Regions from separate parts of the Homo sapiens genome. Here regions 1, 2, 3, 4, 6 and 7 are each reported to be linked to region 5. The links are microRNA targets in miRTarBase. Many come from high-throughput screens and were not tested one by one. Region 5 holds a microRNA gene; each other region holds the end of a gene's coding sequence.

Region 1 (4,060 bases), not on the chromosome of region 5:
GGGATTAACAGGTGTGAGCCACCTCACCCAGCCTATGAGGTTTTAATAGCATAAGTTGTAGCATCCTTAATGTGTTGAATAAGGCAAATTTGAAAAGACTGATGCTATGGAAAATATAACTTTAAGCATGAGTACAATACAAAGCTCATTACTAAATTTTCATACCAATTTTTATATTTATCACTGGCCCCAGGCTTCCCAAGTATTTAGGGTCAACATCTTTACCTTTGGTACCCAAAGTGTAGGTCTTAAAATGGCAGCATTTGCCTGGCACAGTGGCTCACGCCTGTAATCCCAGCACTTTGGGAGGCTGAGACAGGTGGATAACTTGAGGTCAGGAGTTCTAGACTACCCTGGCCAACATGGTGAAACCCCATCTCTACTAAAAATACAAAATTAGCTGGGCATTGTGGCGAATGCCTGTAATCCCAGCTACTTGGGAGGCTGAGGCAGGAGAATTGCTTCAACCTGGGAGGCGGAGGTTGTATTGAGCTGAGATCGTGCCACTGCACTCCAGCCTGGGTGAAAGAGTGAGACTCTGTCTCACAAAAAATAAAAAATAAAAAAAAATAAGGCCGGGTGTGGTGGCTCACGCCTGTAATCCCAGCACTTAGGGAGGCCGAGGAGGACGGATCACCTGAGGTCAGGAGTTTGAAACCAGCCTGACCAACATGGAGAAACCCTATCTCTACTAAAAATGCTTAATTACCTGGGTCTGGTGGCACATTCCTGTAATCCCAGCTACTCGGGAGGCTGAGGCATGAAAATCGCTTGAACCCGGGAGACGGAGGTTGTGGTGAGCCAAGATCACGCCATTGCCCTCCAGCCTGGGCAACAAGAGTGAAACTCCGTCTCAAAAAAAAAAAACGGCCAGGCTCAGTGGCTCACACCTGTAATCCCAGCACTTTGAGAGGCCAAGGCAGGAGGATTCCCTGAGCTCAGGAGCTCAAGACCAGCCTAGGCAGTGTAGCAAAACCCGGTCTTTACAAAAGTAAAAATTTTTTTAATTTGAAAAAATTAGTCAGTAGGGGGTGGGTGGTGGCAGGTGCCTGTAGGCCCAGCTACCCAGGAGACTGAGGAGAGAGGGTCACTTGAGCCCAGGAGTTTGAAGCTGCAGTGAGCTATGATCACACCACTGTACTCCAGCCTGGGTGACAGAGCAAGACCTTGTCTCTAAATAAAAAAGAAAAAGGAGGGAGATTAGGATTTTGCTTTGGGACTGGTGAAAGGAGGGCAGGAGAACTCTGAGAGATTGTTTCCTGAGGCCTGCCCCTGAGGCTTAACACACCTAAAAGACTGTAACAAGGGCTAGAGGAGTTATAAGCCAGGAACTGTGCAGAAACATGTATATATGTATGTTTTATATATGATAATATATGTATATTTTAACACCCCACATATTAAAAATCCAGATTTCCTTTGCCCCTGAAAGATCAGGAAGACTTGGCCACGCTGGACCTTCATTCTGCCCAGCAGCACTTGCCTTGGGCTGAACTGTTGCTGCCACCTCCTGGCCAGCTTCACTTCTTTCCTGCACTAGTGTCTGATTTGGATCCTGATCTAGATTGGTATGGAGCACCCTCTAATACATGTGCACAAGAGATTATATAAGGTGTCATGGATGCACAACAAAGGTGGTGACACTATTCCCTACAATCTGCAACCTTCCACCTGGAATGTATTGTCCATGTGGGCATCCAAGGCGACCTTTTAAGTCCTACAGGATAGGGAAGATTTTTCATGTGACACCTGTGAGGGAATGTGCATGTCCTTCCTCAGCCTTCAGCTTTCTGGAGTAGATAAGGGATTACTAAACCACTGTTTCATGTCAGTATCTGGCCTTATTTATTAAATCAGCAAAACAACACAAAACATGTCATTAGACACTAAGCTTAAAAATGACATTTCAGGCCAGGCACGGTGGCTCAACCTGTAACCCAGCACTTTGGGAGGATGAGGTGGGCGGATCCCCTGAGCCTAGGAGTTGGAGACCAGCCTGACCAACATGGTGAAACCTCGTCTCTACTAAAAATACAAAAATTAGCTGGGAATGGTGACGTGTGCCTGTAATCCCAGCTACTTGGAATGCTGAGGCAGGAGAATCGCTTGAACCCGGGAGGCAGAGGTTGCAGGGAGCTGTAATCATGCCACTGCTCTCTAGCCTGGGCAACAGAGTGAGACTCCGTCTCCAAAAAAAAAAAAAAAATGACATTAAAAAAAAATGACATTTCTTTTGAGCAGTGTTCCTTTGTATTTTAATAATCCTGTATTTAATATAGATTAAGTAAATATTTAAGTTATAATGGATGTCACATAAAATTTCCTTTAAAGATAGGTAAGAAGATAAAATAGATACTTAAAAGGAAATAAGGGAGTCAAAATACTAGAAAAAAAATCAAACACAAAAGGCGGCAGTAATGGAGAAAACATAAGTGAAAGATGCCGGACACAAAGGACCACATGTTTATGATTCCACTTATAGAAAATATCCAAAATAGACAAATCCATAGAAATAGGATCCAGGGGATGGGAGGAGGGAATTATTACTTAATGGGGGCTTCCCTCTGTGGTGATGAAAAATGCTTTGGAACTGTAGTGGTAACAGTACCACAACACTGTAAATGTACTAAAAGCTACGGAATTGTATACTTTAAAATGGTGAATTTTGGAAGGGGGGGGCAGGAAAATAAAATGGCGAATTTTATGTTATGTGAATTTTACCACAATAAAAAATAAACAAAAAGAGAAAAAGTTGCTTTACACAAAAGCATGAAGTAAAAATTACATGTGGTATGGTAAAATAGCACAAATCATAAAAGCAATCTAAGAATGCCTAAAATGGAGGGAATATTGCTTTAGCCAGATTACCTGAGAACGCAGTCCTCAGGTGGAGAAAGGTGTATCTGCCCTGCCCAACCAGCAGCAGGCAGGCAGGGGCCTCGCAGCCCAGCGCAGGTGCTGTTTAGAAAGGGGCATCCACATGGATAAAAGGCCCAGATTAAATGGGGCAGGATGATATTTTGAGATATCTGACTTTGTTCTTTCTGCTCTGGAATTTCATTCCCTGGCCCTGCCCCCTGCCTGCGGCAGCCAAGTTCATTGCCAGGAGAGGGAAGTGACAGAGCAGAAATCGGGAACAAAGGACTGTGGAAGAAAAAAAAATTACAGGTAAGTCATCTAAAAAGCAATAAAGTAACAGTAATATGAATAATGATTGTGTATACATATTTTCAAAACAACATCCTGATAAATCTCATTCTGATTCTGAAATTTAGGTGAGAGACTGGAATGTAGGCAGAACTAGGAACAAGGACAAACAGAACTTCTTATCACTGCAAAAAGGCTACTACCTAGAAGTGTTCAAGCCCAAGTTTTTCAAGCATAATGTTAACTAACCAAGGGCAGAGATACCCAAATGGATCCATCCCATCTACAATTAAACTAAGGACAGAATCACTTGAGCTCCTTCCAAAGAATGTTAAGTAAACAGATTTTATTCAATCTTTCCTAGAGTTTATAATGAACATTTGTTATTTAATATGGTAGTTATATTACAGTTTTACCTTACGAGCGATAGAACATTTGGTGAATAAGATTAACAAACCGGAAATGATGATACCCTCGAAGACACTCTCTGGAAGCACACCAGTCCCACTGACTCATGTTACAAATTTAAGTTGGCATCCAGCTGATTTGTAGAATGTGTTATCCTGATGTTTCTGCAATTATACCACCTGAAGAGGGTCCCTGTCAGTCTCTGATAGGATAATATTTATCTTATTCTCCAAGTGAGAATCCAGCATATCTCGAAGGTCAGAAAGAAAGCCTCGTTCAGTGTTGCTGTGTTCACAGAGGATGACATTTATTCCTTGGGAAGCAGCATCCAAAGTATCATGATGGGACATCTCACCTACCAAAAAGGGAAGAGCAAATTCTTAAATGCTAAATATGGAATCTGTGGAATGAGGAAACACAAAAGCAGAAATACCAAGTTTGTAGTCTATATGAAGTGAATGTAATAGAGCAGAACTGTTTTACATATAAATCTAGAAAGTAGTGT
Region 2 (4,065 bases), not on the chromosome of region 5:
CATCTCAAAAAAAAAAAAAGAAAAAGAAAAAGAAAATGACCCTCAGAGGGTCTCAGAGCTCTCTGGAGCATGGCTGGAGGTAGAAATACCACATTCCCAGAGTGCAGAATTGTCTGCGCCGTGGGGCTTTAGAGCCATGCACGCTGGAAGTTCCCCATCTTTGCACCTCTTGGCCACCAGCGTCAAGGGCCCATCCTCACTTCTCTGCGTGGGGCGGGGTGGCTGGTTTCTTTGAGGCCCAGAGGTCATGGTTAAGGTCACACTCAATCACATGCATCCCGTCCACTCTGCTTTCCAGATGGGGGGCCTGAGACAGGCTCGCACGCCCACTGGGCCCAGCCAAGACATGCTTATCCCCTGCACATCGGACCCTCCGCTGGGCGGTGGGCAGGACCCTGACCCCTCCCACGCATTCCCTGCCTCCCTCCAGCTTGCAGGTCCCAGCCCCAGGGCCACATCACCCACTCTCCGTTTTTCCTTTGCAGTTTGGCAATGAGGAGCAGCAGCTGGCGTGGGCCAAGCGGGAGAGCGAGAAGGCGGAACAGGAGAGGCTGGCGCGGCTGCGGCGGCAGGAGCAGGAGGACCTGGAACTGGCCATCGCGCTCAGCAAGGCTGACATGCCTGCCGCCTAGGCGAGGGCCGTGTGTAGGCGGGACAGGGCACGGGCGGGTTCCAGAGAGGGGGCAGTGCAGATGTCTATATATACACACACACACCGTCGCCACCGTACTCCAAGGACCGGGACTCGGGGGCTTGTTCAGGGTGAGCAGACTCGGCTGCAAGACCTGGAAAGGTCACATCTCCTGGGGAAGCCCTTACAGAGGCCTTGGCCACCACTTCTGCAGGTCCGTCTCTCCACTGTGCCATCCCCCCCGGGGCTGACTGCCTCCCGCTCTTCCTCTGGGGACGAACACACAGCGGTCAGTCGAGGAGAGGAAGCACCCAGGGCTTCCCCGCCTCCTCCCTACTCATAGCTGCAGACATCCCCACCCGCCCTCCCACGCATCAGTCAGACACTCCCCCAGTGGTGTATGCACTCGTTGTATAAAATGAAGTTTGAATGATTAATATAAAATATTTTAATACAAAACAAGAGAAGCTTCTTTAATCTCTGTAAACATTGTTTTCCCTGCATGGGTATCAGGAAGCAGATCAACCAGGTGGAACATTGCTCTTTAAATCTTAAGTTTTTACTTTTAAAAAAAATTTTTTTTTAAGAGATGAGATCTTGCCATGTTGCCCAGGCTGGTCTCAAACTCCTTGACTCACACAATTCTCCTGTCTCAGCATCCCAAAGTGCTGGGATTACAGGCGTGAGCCACCAAGCCCTGCCCATTTTTATGTTTTAACCAACTTTATTTTTTAGGACAGTTTTAAACCTGCAGAAAAATCACAAAGATACAAAGAGTTCCCATAAGCCCCTTAGACAATTTATCCTTAAAAAAAATTTTTTTTTGAAACAGGGTCTGAGCTCTGTCACCCAGGGTGGAGTGCAGTGGTGTGATCTCAGCTCACTGCAACCTCCACTTCCCCGGGCTCAAGTGATCCTCCCACTTCAGCCTCCCAAAGGGCTGGGATTACAGACATGTGCCACTGTGCCTGGCCAGTTTTAAATTTGCAGAAAGATCGCAAAGAAAATACGAAGGGTTCCCATAAGCCCCTTAGAGAGTTTACCTTATTTTTAACATCTTACATTACACATTACTTACATCCCAATTAATGAACCAATACGGATTCATTATTATTAACTAGAGTCCTTACTTTATTCAGAATTGCTCTGTTTTTTTGGCTGAGTGCGGTGGCTCATGCCTGTAATTCCAGCACTTTGGGAGGCCGAGGTGGGGGGGATCACTTGAGGTCAGGAGTTGGGGACCAGCCTGGCCAACATAGTGAAACCCTGTCTCTACTAAAAAAAAACAACACAAAAATTAGCCGCGCGTGGTGGTGCGCACTTGTAATCCCAGCTACTCGAGAGGCTGAGGCAGGAGAATCACTTGAAACTCAGGAGGTGGAGTTGCAGTGAGCCAATATCATGCCATTGCACTCTGGCCCAGGCGACAAGAAAGACACCGTCTAAAAAAAAAAATGCAGGTAGGGCACGGTGGCTCACACCTGTAATCCCAGCCATTTGGGAGGCCGAGGCAGGTGGATCATTTGAGGTCAGGAGTTCAAGACCAGCCTGGCCAACATGGTGAAACCCCGTCTCTACTAAAAATACACAAAAAATAGCCGGGTGGTAGTGGAGCATGCCTGTAATCCCAGCTACTCGGGAGACTGACGCAGGAGAATCGCTTGAACCTGGGAGGTGGAGGTTGTGGTGGGCCAAGATCGCACCTCTGCACTCCAGTCTGGGCCACAGAGTAAGACCCTGTCAAAAAAAAAAAATTCGTTTTTCCCCCTAATGTCCTTTTTCTGTCCCAGGATCCCCCATGACATTCAGACCTTACATCTCGTTAGAATTCTCTGGGCTGGGTGGAACCCCGTCTCTACTAAAAATAGAAAAATTAGCCGGGCGCAGTGGCAGGCGCTTGTAATCCCAGCTACTCAGGAGGCTGAGGCAGGAGAATCGCTGGAACCCGGGGGGCAGAGGTTGCAGTGAGCCGAGATCACACCGCTGCACTCCAGCCTGGGCGACAGAGTGAGACTCTTGTCTCAAGGAAAAAAAAAAGAATTCTCTGGGCTGTGTGAGTTTCTCAAACGTTGTGTGTTTTTGATGACAGTTACAAGGAGAACTGGTCAGGTGCTTTGTAGAATGTCCCTCCACTGGGATTTGTCTGATGTTTTTCCCGTGACTAGATGTGGAGCTGGACTTGGGGGAGGAAGACCACAGAGATGAAGTGTATTGACATCAAATCACATCAAAGATCCATGTCATCAACATGACTTAGAAGGCTGGTGTTGACCTGGATCCACTGGACATAGATTTATTTTTATTTATTATTTTATTTTATTTTGGGACAGAGTTTCACTCTTGTCACCCAAGCTGGAGTACAATGGTGTGATCTCAGCTCGCTGCAGCCTCCACCTCCCAAGTTCAAGCAATTCTCCTGTCTCAGCCTCCCAAGTAGCTGGAATTACAGGCATTAGGCAACATGCCTGGCTAATTTTTTGTATTTTTAGTAGAGATGGGGTTTTGCCATGTTGGCCAGGCTAGTCTCAAACTCCTGGCCTCAGGTAGATTTATTTTTAAAAAGCAGTTTTTCAGCCTCAGATATTTTGTTACATAGACTCGTCTCAGGGCAGTAATTCATGAGATTGAAAATACAGGGCCGGGCGTGGTGGCTAACGCCTGTAATCCCAGCACTTTGGGAGGCCAAGGCAGGTGGATCAAGAGGTCAGGAGATTGAGACCATCCTGGCCAACACAGTGAAACCCCGTCTCTACTAAAAATACAAAAATTAGCTGGGCATGGTAGTGGGCACCTGTAATCCCAGCTACTCGGGAGGCTGAGGCAGGAGAGTGGCTTGAACCCGGGAGGCAGAAGTTGCAATGAGCCGAGATCGTGCCACTGCACTCCAACCTGGTGACAGAGCAAGACTCTGTCTCAAAAAAAAAAAAAAAAAAAAAAAAAAGGCCAGGAGCAGTGGCTCATGCCTGTAATCCCAGCACTTTGGGAGGCCGAGGTGGGAGGATAACTTGAGGCCAGGAATTCGAGACCAGCCTGGCCAATGTGGTGAAACCCCATCTCTACTAAAAATACAAAAAATTAGCCAGGCGTGGTGACAGGCACCTGTAATCCCAGCTACTCAGGAGGCTGAGACAAGGAGGATCGCTTGAACCTGGGAGGCAGAGGTTGCAGTGAGCCAAGATCGTGCCACTGCAGTCTAGCCTGGGCAACAGAGCGAGACTCCATCTCCAAAAACAAAAAAAGAAAATCCTCAGGAAAAGGAAGAGAAAAAATATTGGCCATCCATTAAGTGGAAGTGGATCATCATAAAGGTCTTCTTCCTCATCATCTTCCCATTGAGTAACCCGAGGAGGAGGAGGAGGAAGGGTTGGTCTTGGGGTGGCAGAGGTGGAAGAAAATCCACATACAGGCAGGGCACAGTGGCTCATGCCTGTAAT
Region 3 (4,065 bases), not on the chromosome of region 5:
GGCTAAAAGCCAGTCGTGGAGCCGTCCAGGATTTATCTAGGAAGGGTGACATCTGCCACTGCTCCAGCAGAGCGGGGGCATGGCATGCTTCTGAGGGCACACAGTTCAACACATGAGGCACTCTGCAGCACACAGGACCAAGGTGTCATGCTGCCAGAGGGGCTGGCATTTGCCATTTTGTCAAGGCAGGGCTGCAGCTTGTGGCTTGCTCAGGACAGAAGGATGTTGGGCTCTTACGAGATAGCAGGAAGAAAGCATGAGGTAGAGGGGCTGGTCCTTACTCTCCATCCCCTGCGTGAGATCCAGGAGGCCTCATTCAGAGCCTAGCTCTGGTCCTCCATTCGCCACATGTTTTTTGAGCACTTATAGGTGAGTCACCACCCTAGGTTCTGGGGAAATGGTGAACAAAGGGCCAGAAGTCTCTGCTTCCTGGAGCTGACGTTCACTCCATAATGCTGGACAAGACATCCTGAGCCCATTTCTTCGTAAAAAGGAAGGAGAATGTGGGTCATGAAATGATCTGCTATATGAATGTAGTGTTATAATGTTGCTTTGTCTCAAAGGTTGGTTTGCTGAGCCAGGTAGTGTCTTAGGGGCCAGGGATAGAGAGATAACTAAAACAAAGCTCCTACCCTCAAGACCCTCTCAGTCTAGTGAGGAAAGCGGAGAAACTCACAAATAGGAATAAAAGGAGGCACTATATTGCAAAGCTATCATCTTGAGTTACCTGGGAGTCTGATATGAAGGTCACCCTAATAAAGACAGACTATGCTTTTGGAGTCTCAACAGGACTTGGCAGAGCAGCCAACCCTGGTGCACTCTAGACCTTGAGGGTGATAAGCCCAAAGAGGGTTGGATTGAGGGAGGGAGCTGCATGGGGGCCGTGGCCGGCAGGGTCCCTGGAGATTACAGCAGCAGAGCACTGGCTGGCTCTGAAGGGGAACCCTTGCCAGGCCTCTAGCAGAGGCTTGTCTTTCCATGTACAAGAAAAGTTAAGTGGTGAGGCCTGGAGAGGGGCCCCCTTCTGTACTGTGGTGAAGATAAACGAGGCTGGGAGAGGAGTGAGGGGACGCTATCCCAGAGAGGCTCCTCCCCACAGAGTGGGCAGAAGGAAGACAGAACTGGCCAGCCCCTCGGGGGAGTCGAGAAACCTTCCAGAGTGTGGGTCCCTGTCTCCATGCCCTGCCTCTCCAGACCTGAGTGCCTGCCCTCTGCTGTGACTGCCAGCCTCGTCTGTCCTGTTGGGTGAACTCTGTCCCATCTCTCTTGCCCCTCAAACATTTATTTATCCGGTGTCAAATTCCTACCCACCTTCCTCCAGGGGCCAGGCGCTACGAGATGAGGGGAAGGAACGGCAAGGTCAGCGGGAGCCCGTGGAGTCAGACCCTCCAGCAGCACCACTGGGGGCTGGGCAGGAGGGCATGGGCTGAGGCCACAGGGAAGGGCTGCTCCACAGGGAGGCCTCCCTCTGCTCCGTGGCAGTTGTGGTGCTGGAGATGGAGACCGTGTTTGCTTGTTGGGACCACATCTGCTTTCAGAGGGGAAGCGGGTCACTTCTTTCCCCTGGACCTGGAATGGGCACAACTGAGACGCAGGGAGCATTCCTGCAAGCTGGACACTGCTCTGGGAGAAGACCTCCATCCAACCTCCTGCCAAGACCCCAGCAGCTGCCAGTGTCACTGCCCACAAAAGTATTTGCTTAGCCCAAGAAGGAGTCAGTCAGATGTGTGGTGGCCATGAAATGGATCCTGCTGATTCTCTGTCAGACCTCCCTGCATTGGTCACTACCTCAAAGTTCCTTGGCTGCAACTCCATGTTGCCTGAATCTAGGGACTGTTGACGTATTGCAGGGGCTGGGCGCGGTGGCTCACGCCTGGAATCCCAGCACTTTGGGAGGCCGAGATGGGTGGATCACCTGAGGCCAGGAGTTGGAGACCAGCCTGGCCAACATGGTGAAACCCCGTCTCTACTAAAAATACAAAAATTAGCTGGGCATGGGGGCGCACCCCTGTAGTCCCAGCTACTCAGGAGGCTGAGGCAGGAGAATCACTTGAACCCAGGAGGCAGAGGTTGCAGTGAGTCGAGATTGTGCCACTGCACTCCAGCCTGGGTGATGGAGCGAGATTGTCTCAAAAAAAAAAAAAAAAAAAAGAGCTGCAGGGAAGAATGGCTGAGTGGAGGCCAGTGGCTTCATTGTGCCTCATCTGAACTCCCTGAAGGCTGAAGCAGGTCCCTGAGGCTTTCTGACCACACCCTCCACTCCCCGGCTGTTTCTATTTTTTTAATTTTTTTTTCTGAGAGGGAGTCTTGCTCTGTCACCCAGGCCAAAGTGCGGTGGCTCACGGCAACCTCCGCCTCCCGGGTTCAAGGGATTCTCCTGCTTCAGCCTCCCAAGTAGGTGGGATTATAGGAGCCCACCACCACACCTGGCTAATTTTTCTGTTTTTTAGTAGAGATGGGTTTCACCATGTTCGTGATTCTGCTGTTTCTAAGGAGTCTCTCCCAGGACCATGGGGGTCCACAGCAGGCCCTGAGACCCTGAAGCAGGTTGGCTGCACCTGGGCTACCACCTGCAGTAAAGGGGCTAATCTCTGAATGAGGCTTCCTGGTTCTCAGGCAGGGGATGGAGAGTAAGGACCACCCACTGTGCCTCAAGCTTCCCCCCTGCTGTCACTTAGGAGCCTGCCATCCTGCCATCCCTGAGAGCTTCCCAAGCAAGGCACAAAATCCACAGCCCTACTCTGACAAAGTGGCAAACACCAGCCCCTCTGGCAGCATGATGCCTTGGTCCTGTGTGCTGGAGAGAGCCTGTGTGTTTACTTGTGTGCCCGCCCATACAAGCCATGTCCCTGCGCCGCTTGAGCCCTGTTGGCTGCCTAACTGCTCATCAGCCTCTGACGCTTTGAGGTCCCTTCCTGGTCTCAAGATCCTCTGAACATCTGCCTCTGATAGGCCTTGAACCCGAGCCGCCTCCGGGCTTTTGTATTCAACTGCAACCATATCATTTGCCCTTGCTGATTCACTGTTTTGCACTTGATCTTCTGGCTGCTTCATGTGAGTCTGTTTTGTCTTCCTGCCGAGATAAAAACTCAAGGCTGGGGACTCGCTGACCAAATAACAGAGCAAGGCAGGCTTTTCGGCCTTGCATAATCTGATTCTTATTAAAACCCGCCGATTTCCAGGCACCAAGCCCCTATCCTCGTCAACAAGAAGTTTATCAGCAGGGTTGACTGACTCACAGGGAGGTGTGACCTCACTGCTGGAAGGAGGAAGTGCCATCAGAAACCTGTATAGATAATTTCCTGAAAGCTTCCAAGTTTGGTTTTTTGGGGAACTCCTCAAAGGAGAGGTGGATGGCAGGGGAAGGAGGAGGGGTGATGGGGAGGAGCAGAATAAGAAGTTGTACAAACAGGAGAGGCACAGAGTGGGGAGAAGGAAGCCACCACGGACGGTGAGCCCTGGGGCTTGGAGAAGGCCCTCGGCACCCTTCCAGGGCAGCTCCCACCTGTCAGTTGAAACCACCACCTGGAGACTTTCCACCATTCTCAAGGCCTTCCCACAGGTTCTACCCACCCACTGTCCCCCACCATCTGTCTGCCTCCCAGGCCACGCTGTCCACACTGAGTGAGCCCGCTAGTTTATTCAATACTAGGAATAAGCCGGTATAAAATACATTTTTAGAAAATTCACTTGGAGATAAAAAATCTTGTCCCCACTCCTCCCCCAATCCCACACATCTGTGCTCTTCTGCCTGAGTTAATTCAGCTTTGCTGAGCCTCCTGCAAGAGCTTGAGCAGGGGGTCGTCAGCCCTGAGGGCGAAGGTGAGCGTGCGCTGCTGGTAGTGCCTAGGGTCACACTCCAAGTTCTCGATCACCTCAGCCAGCAGGTGGGCCCGCTCCACGCCTGAGCCGGGGGCCTCGAAGCCCAGGGCGGTGAAGTGCACATGCAGGTGGTAGTAGGAGGGCAGGTAGTGCAGGTATACTCGCAGATGGTCTCCCTTCATCCGGTAGCGCTGCAGGATGGCCTCCTGATGAGACAGGGGCAGGCAGGTCAGGAGTCACCGT
Region 4 (4,065 bases), not on the chromosome of region 5:
GGGGACATTCCCTGCCGAGTGGGGCTCTTCACGTTGGCCATGAACAGGGCCGGGAGCATCGTGTTCCTTACGGTGGTGGCTGCGGACAGGTATTTCAAAGTGGTCCACCCCCACCACGCGGTGAACACTATCTCCACCCGGGTGGCGGCTGGCATCGTCTGCACCCTGTGGGCCCTGGTCATCCTGGGAACAGTGTATCTTTTGCTGGAGAACCATCTCTGCGTGCAAGAGACGGCCGTCTCCTGTGAGAGCTTCATCATGGAGTCGGCCAATGGCTGGCATGACATCATGTTCCAGCTGGAGTTCTTTATGCCCCTCGGCATCATCTTATTTTGCTCCTTCAAGATTGTTTGGAGCCTGAGGCGGAGGCAGCAGCTGGCCAGACAGGCTCGGATGAAGAAGGCGACCCGGTTCATCATGGTGGTGGCAATTGTGTTCATCACATGCTACCTGCCCAGCGTGTCTGCTAGACTCTATTTCCTCTGGACGGTGCCCTCGAGTGCCTGCGATCCCTCTGTCCATGGGGCCCTGCACATAACCCTCAGCTTCACCTACATGAACAGCATGCTGGATCCCCTGGTGTATTATTTTTCAAGCCCCTCCTTTCCCAAATTCTACAACAAGCTCAAAATCTGCAGTCTGAAACCCAAGCAGCCAGGACACTCAAAAACACAAAGGCCGGAAGAGATGCCAATTTCGAACCTCGGTCGCAGGAGTTGCATCAGTGTGGCAAATAGTTTCCAAAGCCAGTCTGATGGGCAATGGGATCCCCACATTGTTGAGTGGCACTGAACAAGCAGACCAACAACACTGAGGAAGATAGAGTGGTGACTTAGAATTAACTCGTGCTAAGGGGTCGGGGGCTTTGAAAATGCCACCCCCCTTTCTTATTGCAAGACGGCTTCTCGCACATGAACTGCATCCTTCTCATTCTGTCGGAAATGAAATTCACACAACTATACCTTTTGGGGAGGTTCCAGTTGATTGAAGTGAGTTGGCTGCATTTTCTTATCTGATCACAATGGCAGGGGACAGAATGTGCATGGAGTGGAGCATGTGTGTGTTGGGAGGGGGGCTAGGAACTGCACAGCCCTTGTGTAATTTTCGTTGTTTGTTTTTGTTTTGAGACAGAGTCTCACTCTGTGTCCCAGGCTGGAGTGCAGTGGCACAGTCTCGGCTCACTGCAACCTCTGCCTCCCGGGTTCAAGCAATTCTCCTGCCTCAGCCTCCCGAGTAGCTGGGATTAGAGGCGCCAGCCAACACACCCGGCTAATTTTTGTATTTTTAGTAGAGACAGGGTTTTGCCATGTTGGCCAGGCTGGTCTCGAGCTCCTGACCTCAGGTGATCCGCCTGCCTTGGCCTCCCAAAGTGGTGGGATCACAGGCGTGAGCCACCGTGCCTGGCCTCCCCTGTGTCATTTTAAATGGCTAAGTAAATGGGTATATGTGTTTGAATGGGGCATGTTCACTCTCTTAGGGGCTATGGGGCAGTTAGCAGCATTTCCTATCCTCTGACCTTAAATCATTCCTTATCTCAGAAAACAGAAACCGGGCTCAGTCAATCAATGCTTTATTTCAGGCCGAATGAGGCTCTTTAGATTGGGATCTATTGATCTATCAATTTTCATCTTTACATTTCTTTGTACATCTGTACATTTTGTCCAAATGTACATCTGTACGTCTGTCATCATTGTGACTTCCTGGTAGCCCAAGAAGAACAACAACAAAACAATCTGCTCTGACCTTCTTCAAATCTTTGTATTTCAAAGAAGGTGCTGAGGGATCTGTTTCCTTGCCCTGGCTTCTCCAGTGGGATGTGCTGAGTCCAATACAATTGCTTTTATAATTGCTTTTGACAACTTGTCATGTGACTGTGAATTGAAATTATTCACTTATTTTCCAAGTATTTACTGAATTCGTATTTGGTGGCAGGCAGTATACTGTGTAATTTTTAGTGGAGGGTCATTAGTCAACTCTTATGTGACAGTAAAGTTTTTTGGGGGGGTGGGGACAGAGAAGTTAAGAGCTTTCATCCTTTCACGGAATACAGTTTCTAGACCGATTCTGTGTGAACATCAGTTTTGTCCTCTTATTGCAAGACTCCCTCATACACATGAGTTTCCCAAATGTGTACCTGGACCCCTCGAAACAGAGGACTCTACGAAATGACAAGCTGCCCCTGCCCTGAATTAGGGGGAAACATTCCAGGCCAACTCTAGCTCCTTTCTCAAGCTACAAAGTGGTGAACATGGTTCTCAACTCCTTAATTTATACTCTCTCAAATGCCCAGGATACTCTACCCACTTAAGAACCTTGCCAACTTCTGGGGGTTGGGCATGGTGGCTCACGCTTGTGATCCCAGCACTTTGGGAGACTGAGGCGGATCACCTGAGGTCAGGAGTTCTAGACCAGCCTGACCAACATGGAGAAACCTCGTCTCTACTAAAAATTCAAAATTAGCCTGGTGTGGTGGCGCATGCCTATAATCCCAGCTATTCGGGAGGCTGAGGCAGGAGAATCACTTGAACCGAGGAGGTGGAGGTTGCGGTGAGGTGACATCGTGCCATTGCACTCCAGACTGGGCCACAGGAGTGAAACGCCGTCTCAAAAAAAAAAAAGAACTTTGCCAACTTCTAGTTCTTTGGCCTCAAAACACCCCTCTAGGCTGTCCCTATTATTCCTTTTTTCAGAGGCACTGTGCAGCCTAGTGATGAAAAGTACGAGCTATAGAGCATTAGAAGCATCGAAGTTTGAATCTCAGCTCAAGCATTTACTAGGCCTGTGATCTTAGGGCAGCTTGTGTTTTTAGACACTGAATCTTGCTCTGTTGCCCAGGCTGGAGTGCAGTGAGTGGCATGATCATAGCTCACTGCAGCCTCAAACTCCTGGGCTCAAGTGTTCCTCCCACCTCAGCCTCCTGAATAGCTGGGAGTACAGGCATAAGCCACCACACTCAGCTAATTTTTAAATTTTTTTTATAGAGACGAGGTCTCACTCACTGTGTTGCCCAAGCTGGTCTCAAACTCCTGGCCTCCAGCAATCCTCCCACCTTGGCCTCCCAAAGTATTGCGATTGCCAGCATGAGCCACTGCTCCCAGCCTGGCATATATATAGATATATATAGAGATATATAGATATCTATCTATCTATATATATATATATTTTTTTTTTTTTTTTTGAGACAGAGTCTTGCTCTATCACCCAGGCTGGAGTACAGTGGCCCAATCTCAGCTCACTGCAAGCTCTGCCTCCTGGGTCCACGCCATTCTCCTGCCTCAGCCTCCAGAGTAGCTGGGACTACGGGCGCCCCACCACCACGCCCGGCTAATTTTTTGTATTTTTAGTACAGACGGGGTTTCATTGTGTTAGCCGGGATGGTCTTGATCTCCTGACTTGTGATCCGCCTGCCTCGGCCTCCCAAAGTGCTTGGATTACAGGTGTAAGCCACCGCACCCCGCCCAGCCTGGCAGATTTTATTTAATCATTTGTAGCTTCATTTTCCTCGTCTGTCAAACAGGGATACTGTAATACAACCTCAGTGTGTCATTGGGCAGTTTAAATGAATGTACATTCCTGAGGCATCAGAACTTTGTTCACTGTTATATACCCAATGCCTAGAAGAGGACCTGCACATAGCAGGTGCTCAGTAAATGTTTGTTGAATGAATGATTAAGTGCATGTAAAGCATTAAGCATAGCGCCTGGCAGTAAGTGCTCAATATTATGACTTCTTATATTAACACGTTTTACATATAAAGAAATGGAGGCAAGAAAGCATTTCCTTTGGGGTTTAGAGCGCTTAAGTTGTTCCTCTGTTATCATGCCTGAATTCCCCCGCCCCTCAGTTACCTGGGGAAGAGTAAAGGCAAGAATTCTTACCAGCATTAGTCATACATCCTCCTGATAGGAATCTGCGAAAACACACACTTCTGCTTTTAGTTCTATTCTTAGAATTCTCTCCTGGGCTGTTGCTCCTTTGTTCCTTCATTGTAATAAAAATGGATTCTGAAAGCAAATCTGTGTCCTGTGTGTGACTCTAGGTCAAAGGACCCCTAGGATTTTGCCC
Region 5 (4,065 bases):
CCTGGCTGTCACGGCTGGACAGGATCTCTCCCACCATGGCCCTCTTGTGTCACAGCCACCTGACCCCCAGTGATGGCCTTCCCAGGGGAGTCCGGACAAAGCGTGTCTCCCACACCTCCTCCTCCCACCCCGACCCTTCTGCAGACCACTCACCACCTGTGCTGTCTCCTGACCCAGCCCCAGGGAGAAGAAAGAAGGCATGGCGCAGGGGAAGCAGAGGGGCTGGAAGTCATTCAGGGCTGGGAGTAAGCAGGTATCTCCTCTCCCCTTCATCCCCAATTCCAAGCCACCACTGCCCAGGGGTGAGCAAGAAACCTCACCTTCAGTGAAGGGCTCCCACTGATACAGCTGGCCCATGAATTCCTGGGAGTTAAAGGCTGCGCACTGCAGGGCCCGGGGGTCTGGCTGCTCAGGGGGGCAGGGCTGCGGTGAGGGGTACAAAGGAGTCAGAGCTGGGGAGCAAAATGAGGGTAGGGGCAGGGCTGAACCTGGGGAGCAGGTGGGAGGCTCAGGTCAGCGGAAGAGCTCCAAGACCCCTGCCCTGAGGTGGTCAGATGCCAAGGCCCTTCTCCCTCAGGTGCCAAGCGGAAGCTGAAGACCCAGCTTCAGGGCAGGGAAGCCACACTGGAGGTCGGGGTTGGGAGGGGAGGCCCGAGGAGACTCACCGCTTGGCTGCAGGCTCTTAGCTGTTCACTCTCCCCAGAACATCTTGGAATAGGGCTACTGGGAGCAAAGAGGCTCCAGAGGGAGCTGGCATGGGGGCCGTTGCTCAGCAGGGGCAGCCAGGCGCCCGGGTGCTGAGGGTCAGGCTCCAGGCGGGGCCCGTGAGGAGTCCCCCCCGTTCCCCAAGGCCCTTGGCCCTGCTGGCCTCGGCCCCGAGGGACCGAAGGAAAAGGATCAGGGCGTCTCCCTGCTACCTGGGGACTGGCCCAACCCTGGGAACTTGGCCTTCGTGGCTGAGGGGATGCACGGAAGAAGCCACCTTCTCCTAAGGAGTGCGTGGGTGAGGGGGGCTCTGTGCCAGAGGCCTGGGCTCTGGGGTGATGCCGTAGGGGGGCAGGCCTGGTTCTGGGGGCCACCTCTGTCTGAGCAGTTTCAGGGCTTAGAGGTTCTGCTTGGGGGGATGGGGTGTGGACAGACAGTTCTGTGGGAGGGAGCTCAGTTTGGGGGCTGCCGTTTGCGGAGAATGGCTCTGCTCTTGGAGTAGGGGACGGAATAGCCTCTTCCCCTCTAGAAGAGATCAGGGACAGCTCAGATCTGGGTGGGCTCCGAGGGTGCCTGCGGTTCCGGTGCAGTGGCAATGCAAAGGGCACTCTCCCATAACCGAACATTCCTGGCTTGATGGGGTCTCGAAGCCGGGACCTGAGAAGGTGTTTCAGATGTGGGGGCACAGCTCTGACCACCTCTGACCCTGTTTCCCCAGTTTACTTCCTGGCACCAAAGACAAGCCCTCTGAAGCCACCCGTGCTCCCCTTTCCTTCATGCTAAGCCCCCACCTTGCCCAAGGCCCACCTCTTCCACCCAGGCCTCTCACCTCCTGGCCGCTCGAATCTCCTGGGTCTCCTCTCTCCCTAGGTGGGAAGCGGGACCTCGAAGTGGGCCACCCCTTCCCCGAGACTGTGTCCTGTACAAGGGGAGGGTTTCTGGAGAAGTCTGGGGTCTGGGACCCTGGCCCCGGGGGAGGAGGGCTTCTGGATGTCTTGGGGGCCGGGGAGGGAGGGGCAGACTCGGGTGGAGCTGCACTGTAGGGAGCTGACATGTCCGGCTCCTGCGCTGCACCCCCACCCCGCAGGGCTGGGAGCAAGAGGCCCACTGGACCCAAGGTCCCCAGACACCTTCGGGGCCCTGGCCCTCCTCTGTAGGTGTCTGAAGAGAGTGTCCGGACAACACCTATATAGAGAAAAAGGTCAGACAGAATTGGAAGGATTAGAGGGAACTGTCCAGAGTGTCCATGTAGACCAACACTGAGGCTCACGGAGTCGCTACCAGTCCAAGGTCACATTCAGCAGCAGAGGGAGAACTACACCTCGGCCTCTTGGTGTTATGAGGCAAGGAACTGGGGAGTTGGCAGGGGAGGTGGGTGGGCTGTGGGGAATGGAGGCGTGGCCTGGAGAGATGGGGTGGGAGCCTAGGGGGAGATGAAAGGGTGGCAGGCAGGCTGCAGCTGCTCACTTGTCCAGAACTCACCTCCTGATCCAAGCAGAGCTGAGGGAGGGACAGAAGCAGCAGCAGATACAGCCAGGGCCTGCAAACCAAAGGCCAGGGGAGGGACGTCAGACTGGAGCCAGAGGGGGTGTTGCAACACTGCCCTCCGCCCCCAGCCGGCTCCCATATCCTGACTACCAACTTCTCAGAAAGCAGAAGTTACTCATCACTTCCCCTGCCCCTCCCAGTGGTCCCCTTTCCCTCACTTCCAGACACAGAGCCATCCCAGCACCTCCCCTTTTCCTCCCCCCCAACCCGTGGCCCCTTCTCTCACCTGCCAGTCCAGTTCTCCATCGCTCCCCCTCTACTGCCCCAGGGGGAGGCAGGAGCGGACTGGTCACAAAAACTACGCAGGCATCTGGGCGTGGAGGGTGCTCTCTGCAGGGACAGAAGCCTGGTGGTTACCTCTCCAGTGTCCAGAGAGCTTGGGGCTGGGAGGACAGCTCAGAGAATATGGAGGAGGGGGTGAAACTGGTCCATCCCTTTAGGATCCTCAGGGTGGGAGCAGGGAGGATCACTGCCTTGTCCATCTGTAGAGGCTACATGGTCAGGGGCTGACCTCAGCCCTCCAACTAAGGCTCAGTCCCCACCTCTGGGCCCTGTAGGGGCTTCTTAGCTCCTCCCCAAATCCTACCTAGGGACTGTTTCTAAGCCGGCTCAGGCACACACAAAAGGCTTTTTTTTTTTTTTTGAGATGGAGATCTCACTCTGTCATCCAGGCTGGAGGGCAGTGGTGCCACCAAAGCTCATTGCAGCCTCAAACTCACAGGCTCTCCTTCCTCAGCCTCCTGAGTAGGTGGGACTACATGCGTGCACCACCACACCCAGCTAATTTTGGTATTTTTTGGTGGAGATGGGATCCAGCTAAATTGCACAGGCTGGTCTTGAACTCCAGGCCTCAAGCGCTTCTCCTGCCTTGGCCTCCCAAAGTGCTGGGATGACAGGTGTGAGCCACCGCACCCAGCCAGAGGGCTCCTTCTAAAATGGTTGTCATCTGCTCCCACTCCTGCCCTCCCAGAGGTGCCTAGAAAGTAGAGGAGGAAGGCTCCACTGAGGATGCGCCAGACACTCTCTCTGAGGACCCACCAGAAGCCCCTTCCTTGGGTCTTCCAGACACAAGACCTTCCCCAGTCATCTCTCTGTCCTACTTGCCTCCCGGCTTTCTCTTCCCTTCTTAGATAAGCTCTTTAGGGAACATCCAGGCACATCTCATACACTTTTTGGCCAAGGGATAAGCTAAATGGGTTGACGGTTTAATCTCTAGAGAAGAAGCCGGCAATGTAACACCCACTCTGGGTGCCAGCATCTGGAGTTGGTTCAGTGAGGGCTTGTTTCCTGTGCGTCTCTACCAGCTGGGGAAGCGGGAAGGAGAGGTGCAGCCGGGGCTGCCTCATGCCCCAGCCACAGGCCTCTCATTCTGAAGAGCCGGGAAGTCCATCTGAAGTTCAGCTTTGAACACTGGAGAAGTGAGGCTTGGAAGCCACCCCAGCCACCAAGCCTGACTCTCTTTGCCCCCTTCTTCTCACTTTGAGTCCTTCCCACCCCTGCTCCTCATCCCACTCTTAGTTCTGCTTTCCAGGAAAAAAAAAATCTGTTTCTGTTGGATCTGAAAGGCACCCGGGAGAGGAATCCAGGGAGCCCTCGCATTGCTGAGGTGGGCCAGCTCTGGGGCAGAAAATGACCAAGAGAAGGGTAGGAATGTGCCTGGGGGCAGACACTCAGCCCCACTGCCCTCCCTGAGACCTAGGGTTCGGAATTTGAGGGAGGGGTCAGAGTGGCTGAGCCAGAGCGGGCGCCTCAGGGATTGGGGTTGGGGTGGGGGTTGCCGATGGCCACTCCTTCCCCTGGCTGGGCCGGCCA
Region 6 (4,063 bases), not on the chromosome of region 5:
CAGTGACAGTTAATATGATTCCTCTCATTGCCCATAGGTAGGCCACCGATCCAAATGGATCCTGAGTTCAGACAGAATCCTTACCTCCTGATAAGGTTGAGTGAGGATTATTAGGTGAGCCACAGACTAAGGAATGTTTCAGAAAGCAGTTTTCTAGGTGTAGTTTGGATTTACAAAAAAAAAAAAAAAAAAGTTCTCCAGGCCAGGCGTGGTGGCTCACACCTGTAATCCCAGCAATTTGGGAGGCCAAGGCAGGCAGATCACAAGGTCAAGATATCGAGACCATACTGGCCAACCAACATGGTGAAACCCTGTCTCTACTAAAAATACAAAAATTAACTGGGCATAGTGGCGCATGCCTGTAGTCCCAGCTACTCGGGAGGCTGAGGCAGGAGAGCTGCTTGAACCTGGGAGGCAGAGGTTGCAGTGAGCCGAAATAGCGCCACTGCACTTCAGCCCGTGCGACAGAGAGAGACTCCATCTTAAAAAAAAAAAAAAAAAAAAAAAGTTCTCCTCCTATTTATTACTTGTCCCTTCCTATGATCTCACTCTATCTTCACTCCAAGTCTTCAGCAAGACTGTATATGAACTATGTGATAGAAGGTACTGTTTCAAGGCTGACAGTGGGCCATTTTATCTATACCACAAGTATTGCTGAAATGCAAACATTTAGATTTCTTTGCCACTTTCTATTCCAGAAATAAAAGATGAAATTCTAAAATACTGGTTAATTTTATATGTGAGATAGCCACAGAAATTGTAAAAGATGAGAAGAAAAGCAGTTTAAGTGAGGAAACAATGAGAGAAAACCTATTAGAAAATTGAAACTTGATTTTGATTAACTAGGAAGTCTTCAAAAACAAACTAAAGGAGGCTGGGTTTAGTAGCTCCTGCCTGTATTCTTAGCACTTTGGGAGGAGGATCACCTGAGACCAGGAGTTTGAGGCTGCAGTGAGCTATGATTACACCACTGCACTCCAACCTGGGTGACAGAGTGAGAGACCCCGGCTCTGAAAAAACAAAAATAAATAAAAGCAATTGAAGGGAAGTCATTCCACAATTTAAACTTGCTTTATGCAGTGGATGCATTCCTGAAAGGCTATTATTATTTTATCAGGGCTTCATATCATATAAAGAAATGGAATTCACGATGACAAACCTATGGAAATGCATTTTCTTCTTCTCTTTTTTTCATAGCTTCCTACTCAAATTAGGAAAATGCATTTTCTTTTTTTCTTTTTTTTTTTTTTTTGAGATGGAGTTTCACTCTTGTTGCCCAGGCTGGAGTGCAATGGCGCGATCTCAGCTCACCACAACCTCCACCTCCCAGGTTCAAGCGATTCTCCTGCTTCAGCCTCCCTGGTAGCTGGGATTACAGGCACGTGCCACCATGCCTGGCTAATTTTGTATTTTTAGTAGAGACGGGGTTTCTCCATGTTGGTCAGGCTGGTCTCGAACTCCCAACATCAGGTGATCTGCCTGCCTCGGCCTCCCAAAGTGCTGGGATTACAGGCATGAGCCACCGCACCCGGCCTCTTTTTTTTAAAAAAAAAAAAAGACAAGAATCTTGCTCTGTCGCCCAGGCTGGAGTGCAGTGGTGCAATCTCGGCTCACTGCAGCCTCTGTCTCCTGGGTTCCAGCGAGTCTCCTGCCCCAGCCTCCTGGATAGCTGGGATTACAGGCACATGCCACCACACCCAGCTAATTTTTGTATTTTTAGTAGAGACAGAGTTTCACCATGTTGGCTGGGCTGGTCTCAAACTCCTGACCTTGTGATCTGACCACCTTGGACTCCCAAAGTGCTGGGATTACAGGTGTGAGCCACCACACCCGGCCTGCAGGGTCCAATGTCTCTTATTTGCCACTATCACTAGTACCAAGCACAGTGCCTACCACTGTTGAGTGACCCCTCCTGTAATAAACTTACACTACTGCCTCCCAAATGAAGCCCCTCTCCCAGTATTTATGCCTAGACCTATTTCCTTAATGGTGGGGACTAAACAAGAAAGAGGAGCAGAGAGGGGGTACAGAACAGACACTTAGCTGAGGAACATTAAGACCAAAATCACAGAGCAAAGCAGGACTGCAACAAGTATTTCTTAAGAGGCTATGTGCAAGGTGGCTCCTCAAGTCTAGAAGACCCAAGCCTCAGGCTTCCTCCAGAAAAGCAGTCTGGGAGACAGAATTTACAAATCAACTGGCTGACCGGACGAAGCCCCGGAATCCTGTGTCAATTCGTTTTAAACTAAGGCCAGATGCTTTTTGGTAGGCTGCCTCTTCCCGTGAGCTGGTGGGTACTTCAAGTCTATGATTTGATTCTCATTTCTTAAAAAAGGATGAGTATGTGTGGTAGTTGGGTATGGTATAGGTATGGTATAAATTTCAGGTGGAAATAGGAATTAAAGGATCTGATTTGCCTTGGTGGGGGAAGAAAAAGGCCATAAAAGAGAATCGCACTTAAAGGTACATTGTTGAAAAATCTAAACTATAAAATTAATTACCTGCCATTATTACATCAACAACAAAAAGGCATTTTATTTTATTATTTTTATTTTTTTTGAGACGGTGTTTCATTTTTGTCGCCCAGGATGGAGTGCAATGGTGCGATCTTGGCTCACTGCAACCTCCACCTCCCAGGTTCAAGCAGTTCTTCTGCTTCAGCCTCCTGAGTAGCTGGGATTACAGATGTCCGCCACCATGCCCAGCTAATTTTGTTTGTATTTTTAGTAGAGACGGGGTTTCATCGTGTTGGCCAGGCTGGTCTCAAACTCCTAACCTCAGGTGATCTGCTCACCTCGGCCTCCCAAAGTGCTGGGATTATTATGGGCATAAGCCACTGTGCCCAGCCCAAAAAGGCATTTTAAACAAAAATTCTGACGTTTAAAAACTGAAAATATATCGCGCCACTGCACTACTGCCTGGGCAACAGAGCAAGACTCTGTCTCAAAAAAACAAAACAAAAAACAAAAAACCCTGAAAATATGAGCCCAGGAGTTCGAGGCTGCAATGAGCCAATACTGCACCTTTGTGCTTCTGCCTGGGCGACAGAGTGAGACCTTGTCGATAAGAAAAAAAAAAACCTGAAAACAGAAAAGAGGGCTTTTACAATGTTGATGAACTCATCTTAGAGTGCATGATTTATAAATACATAAATATCCATGCATACTTTTACAGTGATAACTCCTGGGAAAATGAGAATGTTAAAAAAGCCAATCTAGACAGAGTCCTTCTCATTCCACCTGCCTCTTTATGTTGGTAATACCAGGAGTCTTAAGAGAGCTGCTGTGGTCTATGTCACATTCATCCCAGCCTCCTTTCTAATCCTGTAGCTGATGATGAAAATGTGATAAATCTTCTGGCTTAGCTTTGATGCTGGGAAAAAAAGAAAAGAAAAGGTTACATAACCATGTAGTCCAGTGAATCAAATTCATCTTCATAAATTAAAATATAGCAGTGATGTAATATTTATGTACTATCCAGACAGTAAGTATACTCAGAAATTATTAATATTTTACAACATACAGAAAATTCAGCAAAACATTGACCACAGCATCCATTTGGAAGCCAGAACTTGATTTTCCTGTCTTGTCACTTGCAATCTATAAATGTTCACAATTTAAAGTGATAATGGAAATGCTTAAAATACAACTTTTTCTGGCATGCTTTGCAGTGAAAGGTTCTAAAAGCAGAGTCACACAAACACTTATTGTTCTAAATTAAAAGCAGTCAGTTCAGGTAGTAATTCACAACATTTCACATTGAGTCAGGATATTTAGATGTGAAGGTTATATATTTCTGGATTTCACACTATTAGAAACTGTAAAAGCTTGTCTTCAAATAGTGGTGAAATGAAGCAGAGCTATTCTTTCTGGTTACTCTCTAGCACCTTTGGTAAATTTAAACTTGGCTTTAGACAACTTTTAAACAGGGTGTGAAAAAATCACTTTGGCTGTCACCTTGTATTTGAATGAATTTCCTTAACATTTAGCAGTGCAAGTGAATCAATCTGAGAGTCTTTTTAGTAATCAGAGATTTCAAGGTATGACCTATTTCCTAGTTAGAC
Region 7 (4,065 bases), not on the chromosome of region 5:
CAAAGGCAGCCAGAGAGCATGAATAAGTTCCAAGATGCCAAACTTTTGTCTTGGGACAAGAAAACATCAAAAAGGAGAGGGAGGGAAAGGCTTGCATGTTTCAATGTAGTGCAAGGAGGTGGGATTCTCCTTTTCCATGTAGCTTTCAGAGTCGTATTTTTATGGCATAAAAATTCTCACTCGGCTGGGTGCAGTGGCTCACGCCTGTAATCCCAGCACTTTGGGAGGCCGAGGCAGGCGGATCACGAGGTCAGGAGATGGAGACCATCCTGGCTAACGTGGTGAAACAATGTTTCTACTAAAAATACAAAAAAAGTTAGCCGGGTGTGGTGGCGGGCGCCTGTAGTCCCAGCTACTCAGGAGGCTGAGGCAGGAGAATGGCATGAACCCGGGAGGCGGAGCTTGCAGTGAGCCAAGATCGCACCACTGCACTCCAGCCTGAGCGACAGAGCGAGACTCCGCCTCAAAAAAAAAAAAAAAAAAAAAAAAAAAAATCCTCACTCAAAGTGAGTGCTTTTGGTGGTTGGGGATCAGAGAGAGGGCAGAAAGAGAAATTAGAGAAAACATGCACAACTTTTCTCTCCTTCCACTCGCAAAAAGGCTACCTGTTAACCAAACATTATGGGGAAGAAAGCAAAAAACAAACACACCAAACCTCCCCTCCAACCTTTCTCCGTGTCCTTCAAACCAAATTCACAAATACATCTAGTGGCTGACCTAATGTCTCCACGCTGCTAGCTACACTCCTACCTTCTCCTCATAATACCTGAGTTTGCAATGCAACACATTCACTTTACCCTGTTTAAAAAAAGCCCACGTCATAAAAGGACTGGTGCAGAAGACATTAAAGACGGTCCACAGGTCAGGCTCCGGCTCGGAACACACAGCCACTTTGCTCTGAGATTCTGCAGGGCTCTCGGCAATGAATGGGCTCTTTGTTCTGTGGAATCTGCTGCAAACATTTGTAAAACTGGATTTGTACAATGGCAACTTGCAGAACCTTTCCCCTACTCCACAAATTAACAACTTGCTCTGTTCAATACTACGTTGTTGGAGAGACATGTTCTTGCCTCATCAGAGAGCAATTTCTTTTGACACCCAACACAACGGGTAAAATGTTTAATTTGAAAAGCAATTTCAAAAATAATAATTGGACAGATAGAGGCCTCAGCAAAGAACGATGCTGTACACAGGAGCTGTCTTAGAGAAGGCATCTGTGATATGTGTCTCCTTCCCGATCTGGAGGAAAGCAGCTCAGAGTCTGACCTGTGGCCAAAGAATGTGATCTAGTTGGTTAAATAAAATTCAGGGGAACAAGTATCGTGAACTTAGAAATAAACAGATACACACGAACACACAAGAATCTTCCCACTGACGTGAAAAACATGCTAGCTGGAGCTTTTCCTGAGGAACATGTCTCTTCCTTCTCAGAGCAACTGGGGAAACGGCATTGAGGAGTAATGTTCCGAGTTTTAGATCCATCAAGGGCCAAAATCATCACTCTGCTGGTACCCGTAACATTTCACCAGAAAGAAACAATTACAATCAGACATGGACTACCCAGTATGCACACGACGTGGTGCCCTCCTGGGTAGCTTTACTAGGTTGAGTTGAGGAGACAGCAAACAGCCTTTGACTAAATAGGCAGAAGAAGGTGCCGTGGGCCCTTCCAACCTACCCAGGCATGCAGCCAACTAAGTGGTCTGCTTGCCACACTGGCTGTGAAAGATACCTGGGTGTAGGCAGGACAAGCACCTGAAAGAGTTCAAAGACAGACCTGGTGTAGCGCTGGCCAAAGTCAAGAGGGTAAGGAACACGTCCTGGGATAAGGTGGGGCAGGTAGTGAGAGGTCAAGGAGTCCAGGCCATGTCTGCAGAGGTAGCAGCCGGGCCATTAGGAACCTGAGGTAGTTTAAAGCCCCCCTTCCCTTCCAGGTGCTTCTGGCTCCAGCCCTCCAGGCCTTGGCTGGCCAGTCCACTGCTGAAGTAAGGGGCAGCTGAGCCACTCTGGGCCTTGGGCTTTGTGTCCTGGGTCCCTGAGGAAAACTGGTCTCACTCTGGAGAGAAAAGGAGAACTTGGAGAAGAACTTAGGGGCAACATTTCTGGTCAGCAGACAGGTGAATGGTCCTTCTCATTGTTTAAAAAAGCCTGAAGTTTTCGGATTTAGACCTGAGGGTGCGGTAGGAAGGGGAGGGGAGAGGAACAGATTTCAAAAGGGGAGTGTCTATTCTTTTTGCAGTCTGGCCTTGCCCTACTACCCTTTGAAGAAAACAAGGTGAAAGGAGAATAAATCAGTAGTGGGCACCAGGCTTCAGAACATGGCATTCTGCTCAGCTGGTTTTTCAAAGGGCCAATAGGAAGTCAAATGTGTAAGGGAGTGGGAAGGAGGAAGGTGGGCCTCAGGAGATCCAGGTAAGGAAACTAGGTAGCTGGGGGCCCCGAGGGAGCTGGGAGGCGAGTCCTGTGGATCAAGTGATTGCCAGGACTTTGCCTAGATGGAAAGTTCGCAGTGGTAGACAATGATGGTGGTGCAGGGGTAAGGGGGGCAGCAAGGTGTGAGAACAGAAATTCTTCTGCCCTTAGGACTTGTTGGGTGGAAGGACACCTGCCTTAAATATGGTCACTGTGCCCTACTCTCTTAATTTTCACGCTTTCCAAGGAAAGGACGTGGCTCAATCCTCACCTCCTACCCTGTTGCCGTCTCACCAACCTTGCTTAGTGAATCTCCTAACAACACTTTGCCCCCTTACAGTGTGCCGTTTTATCTGGCAATTCTGTGGCTAAAAAAGGCAATTTGCTCTCTGACAGACAAATGTATGAGTCTGCTGAGAAAATGTGGAAAAAGTAGGGATGGCCACACCCCCCATTTCCATTGAGGTAGTCATCTTTGTCAACATTATGGAAATAGTCATCTTAGCCCCATCCCACCCTCTCCCTCAAAATACAAAAGAACTATTTCTAAACAATGACAACACTGTAACATTAAACATCTTCACATTCTGTAAACTGTAAGAAAATGCATTGGCTGCATTCACACAAAAGCATGTGCATCATGTTGAAGGCCATACATTCAACTCTGTCGTGAAATAAATATATAGAAAAATGAGGTTAAAAAAACAGACAAACAAACAAAAACTCTTCTTGCTATGGAGGCAACGGGAAATGCTGCTCCACAGCCTCCATCTTGGTCTCTCTGGCTTTTCCCTCCAGAGCCTGTCCTGCCCACCCAAGACGCTGTGGTTGGCCTGAGGAGGGCGCCTGGAACAGGTCATTCCTTGCCCACACTGGTCTTGCAGGAATGCAGCACCACCTTAAAGAGGAGGGGCAGCTGCTCCAGGGGCACATTCACCATCTTTCCTGGGAACAAGGGGGGAGAAGAAGAGTTAGCAGTGGTCACTCTAGTGGACAGGCAAGTCAGCCTCCTTGGGCTGGTGGAGGCAGAGTATCACCTTGCTGAGTGACTGGGGCAAGAGAAGTGCCAGGAGTATCACAAAGGTTGGACACACTGGGCTAACATCCTAACATCCAGACCCCTTTGGGTGCCCAGGGAGCCTAGTAATGGTGCCAACTCATCATCATTCTACTACTCAGGGAATACTTAACTCTGTTCTAGGTGGTTAAATGCATTACCTCGTTGAATTCTCACACTATTTCTGTGTACTACTTTTTACCCTCATTTTATAGATAAGGAAGCTGAAACTGACAGGTAGTCCAAAAAACTTCTGTCCTGTTTTCTTCACCCCCTCAACCCCCGGTAGATTTTCTAAGTAATATTCTATAAAATATTGCACTTCAGAATGGTTTAATAGGTTAATAAAAGTACTAGGGGAAAAAGAAGCAGGGGTAAAGAGGCAAATACATTTGAGAAACTCAGGGTTAAAAGAGCTTTACAGATTTCTTGATTGAAGGACTTCTCAGAGCATTCAGTGTGCTAATATAATTTATAAATACCTAAGGCTGTGTTTCTTCTGGCAAACAGTACCTCTGAGTGACCTGGGGAGCCGTTCGAAAACACTGATTATCTCCAGGCTCTACCCCATTCCAATTAAACCAGAATTCTCCAGG

Evidence for each region. Region 5 holds the annotated microRNA hsa-miR-4257 (CCAGAGGUGGGGACUGAG, at 2,784-2,801, opposite strand). A microRNA usually pairs through its seed, bases 2 to 8, with sites in the 3' UTR of a target mRNA and lowers its output. Matches are read on the target gene's strand: a 7mer-m8 pairs with bases 2 to 8, a 7mer-A1 pairs with bases 2 to 7 and ends in A, and an 8mer does both.
Region 1: the mRNA of NIF3L1 is a reported target of hsa-miR-4257. The part of its 3' UTR that is shown has no 7-base or 8-base seed match.
Region 2: miRTarBase lists EPS15L1 as a target of hsa-miR-4257. The part of its 3' UTR that is shown has no 7-base or 8-base seed match.
Region 3: the mRNA of DCPS is a reported target of hsa-miR-4257. Seed matches in the 3' UTR shown: 7mer-m8 at 2,065-2,071 and 7mer-A1 at 1,535-1,541.
Region 4: miRTarBase lists HCAR1 as a target of hsa-miR-4257. Seed matches in the 3' UTR shown: 7mer-m8 at 1,187-1,193 and 7mer-A1 at 1,509-1,515.
Region 6: miRTarBase lists CDKN2AIPNL as a target of hsa-miR-4257. The part of its 3' UTR that is shown has no 7-base or 8-base seed match.
Region 7: miRTarBase lists NR6A1 as a target of hsa-miR-4257. Seed matches in the 3' UTR shown: 7mer-m8 at 1,874-1,880.

The regions. Positions count from the first base shown.
Region 1 is chr2:200,903,344-200,907,403 of GRCh38, reverse strand. NIF3L1 (NGG1 interacting factor 3 like 1) reads right to left here. Exons shown (of 7, transcript NM_001369441.2): 7 at 3,479-3,910. The coding sequence ends at 3,726. Among named protein-coding and RNA genes, the nearest start is that of NIF3L1, 16 kb to the right of the region's middle.
Region 2 is chr19:16,352,272-16,356,336 of GRCh38, reverse strand. EPS15L1 (epidermal growth factor receptor pathway substrate 15 like 1) reads left to right here. Exons shown (of 24, transcript NM_001258374.3): 24 at 486-1,090. The coding sequence ends at 632. Among named protein-coding and RNA genes, the nearest start is that of KLF2, 29 kb to the right of the region's middle.
Region 3 is chr11:126,345,310-126,349,374 of GRCh38, reverse strand. DCPS (decapping enzyme, scavenger) reads right to left here. Exons shown (of 6, transcript NM_014026.6): 6 at 1-4,028. The coding sequence ends at 3,762. The region is part of intron 1 of GSEC (G-quadruplex forming sequence containing lncRNA); the gene reads left to right. Among named protein-coding and RNA genes, the nearest start is that of GSEC, 8.2 kb to the left of the region's middle.
Region 4 is chr12:122,726,026-122,730,090 of GRCh38, reverse strand. It overlaps HCAR1 (hydroxycarboxylic acid receptor 1), which reads left to right. Exons shown (of 1, transcript NM_032554.4): 1 at 1-4,015. The coding sequence ends at 792. Among named protein-coding and RNA genes, the nearest start is that of HCAR1, 2.8 kb to the left of the region's middle. RefSeq lists an enhancer at 1-485.
Region 5 is chr1:150,550,723-150,554,787 of GRCh38, reverse strand. It overlaps MIR4257 (microRNA 4257), which reads right to left and starts at 2,859; the gene lies at 2,774-2,859. It overlaps ADAMTSL4 (ADAMTS like 4), which reads right to left. Exons shown (of 19, transcript NM_019032.6): 3 at 2,480-2,583; 4 at 2,188-2,245; 5 at 1,535-1,890; 6 at 666-1,362; 7 at 321-423. The coding sequence starts at 2,499. It overlaps LOC124904417, which reads right to left. Exons shown (of 1, transcript XM_047438226.1): 1 at 3,438-4,065. The coding sequence ends at 3,728. It overlaps ADAMTSL4-AS2 (ADAMTSL4 antisense RNA 2), which reads left to right. Exons shown (of 6, transcript NR_187269.1): 5 at 56-253. RefSeq lists enhancers at 2,126-2,995, 3,485-4,065.
Region 6 is chr5:134,399,555-134,403,617 of GRCh38, forward strand. It overlaps CDKN2AIPNL (CDKN2A interacting protein N-terminal like), which reads right to left. Exons shown (of 3, transcript NM_080656.3): 3 at 2,511-3,372. The coding sequence ends at 3,361. Among named protein-coding and RNA genes, the nearest start is that of CDKN2AIPNL, 10 kb to the right of the region's middle.
Region 7 is chr9:124,519,437-124,523,501 of GRCh38, forward strand. It overlaps NR6A1 (nuclear receptor subfamily 6 group A member 1), which reads right to left. Exons shown (of 10, transcript NM_033334.4): 10 at 1-3,357. The coding sequence ends at 3,269. Among named protein-coding and RNA genes, the nearest start is that of NR5A1, 14 kb to the left of the region's middle.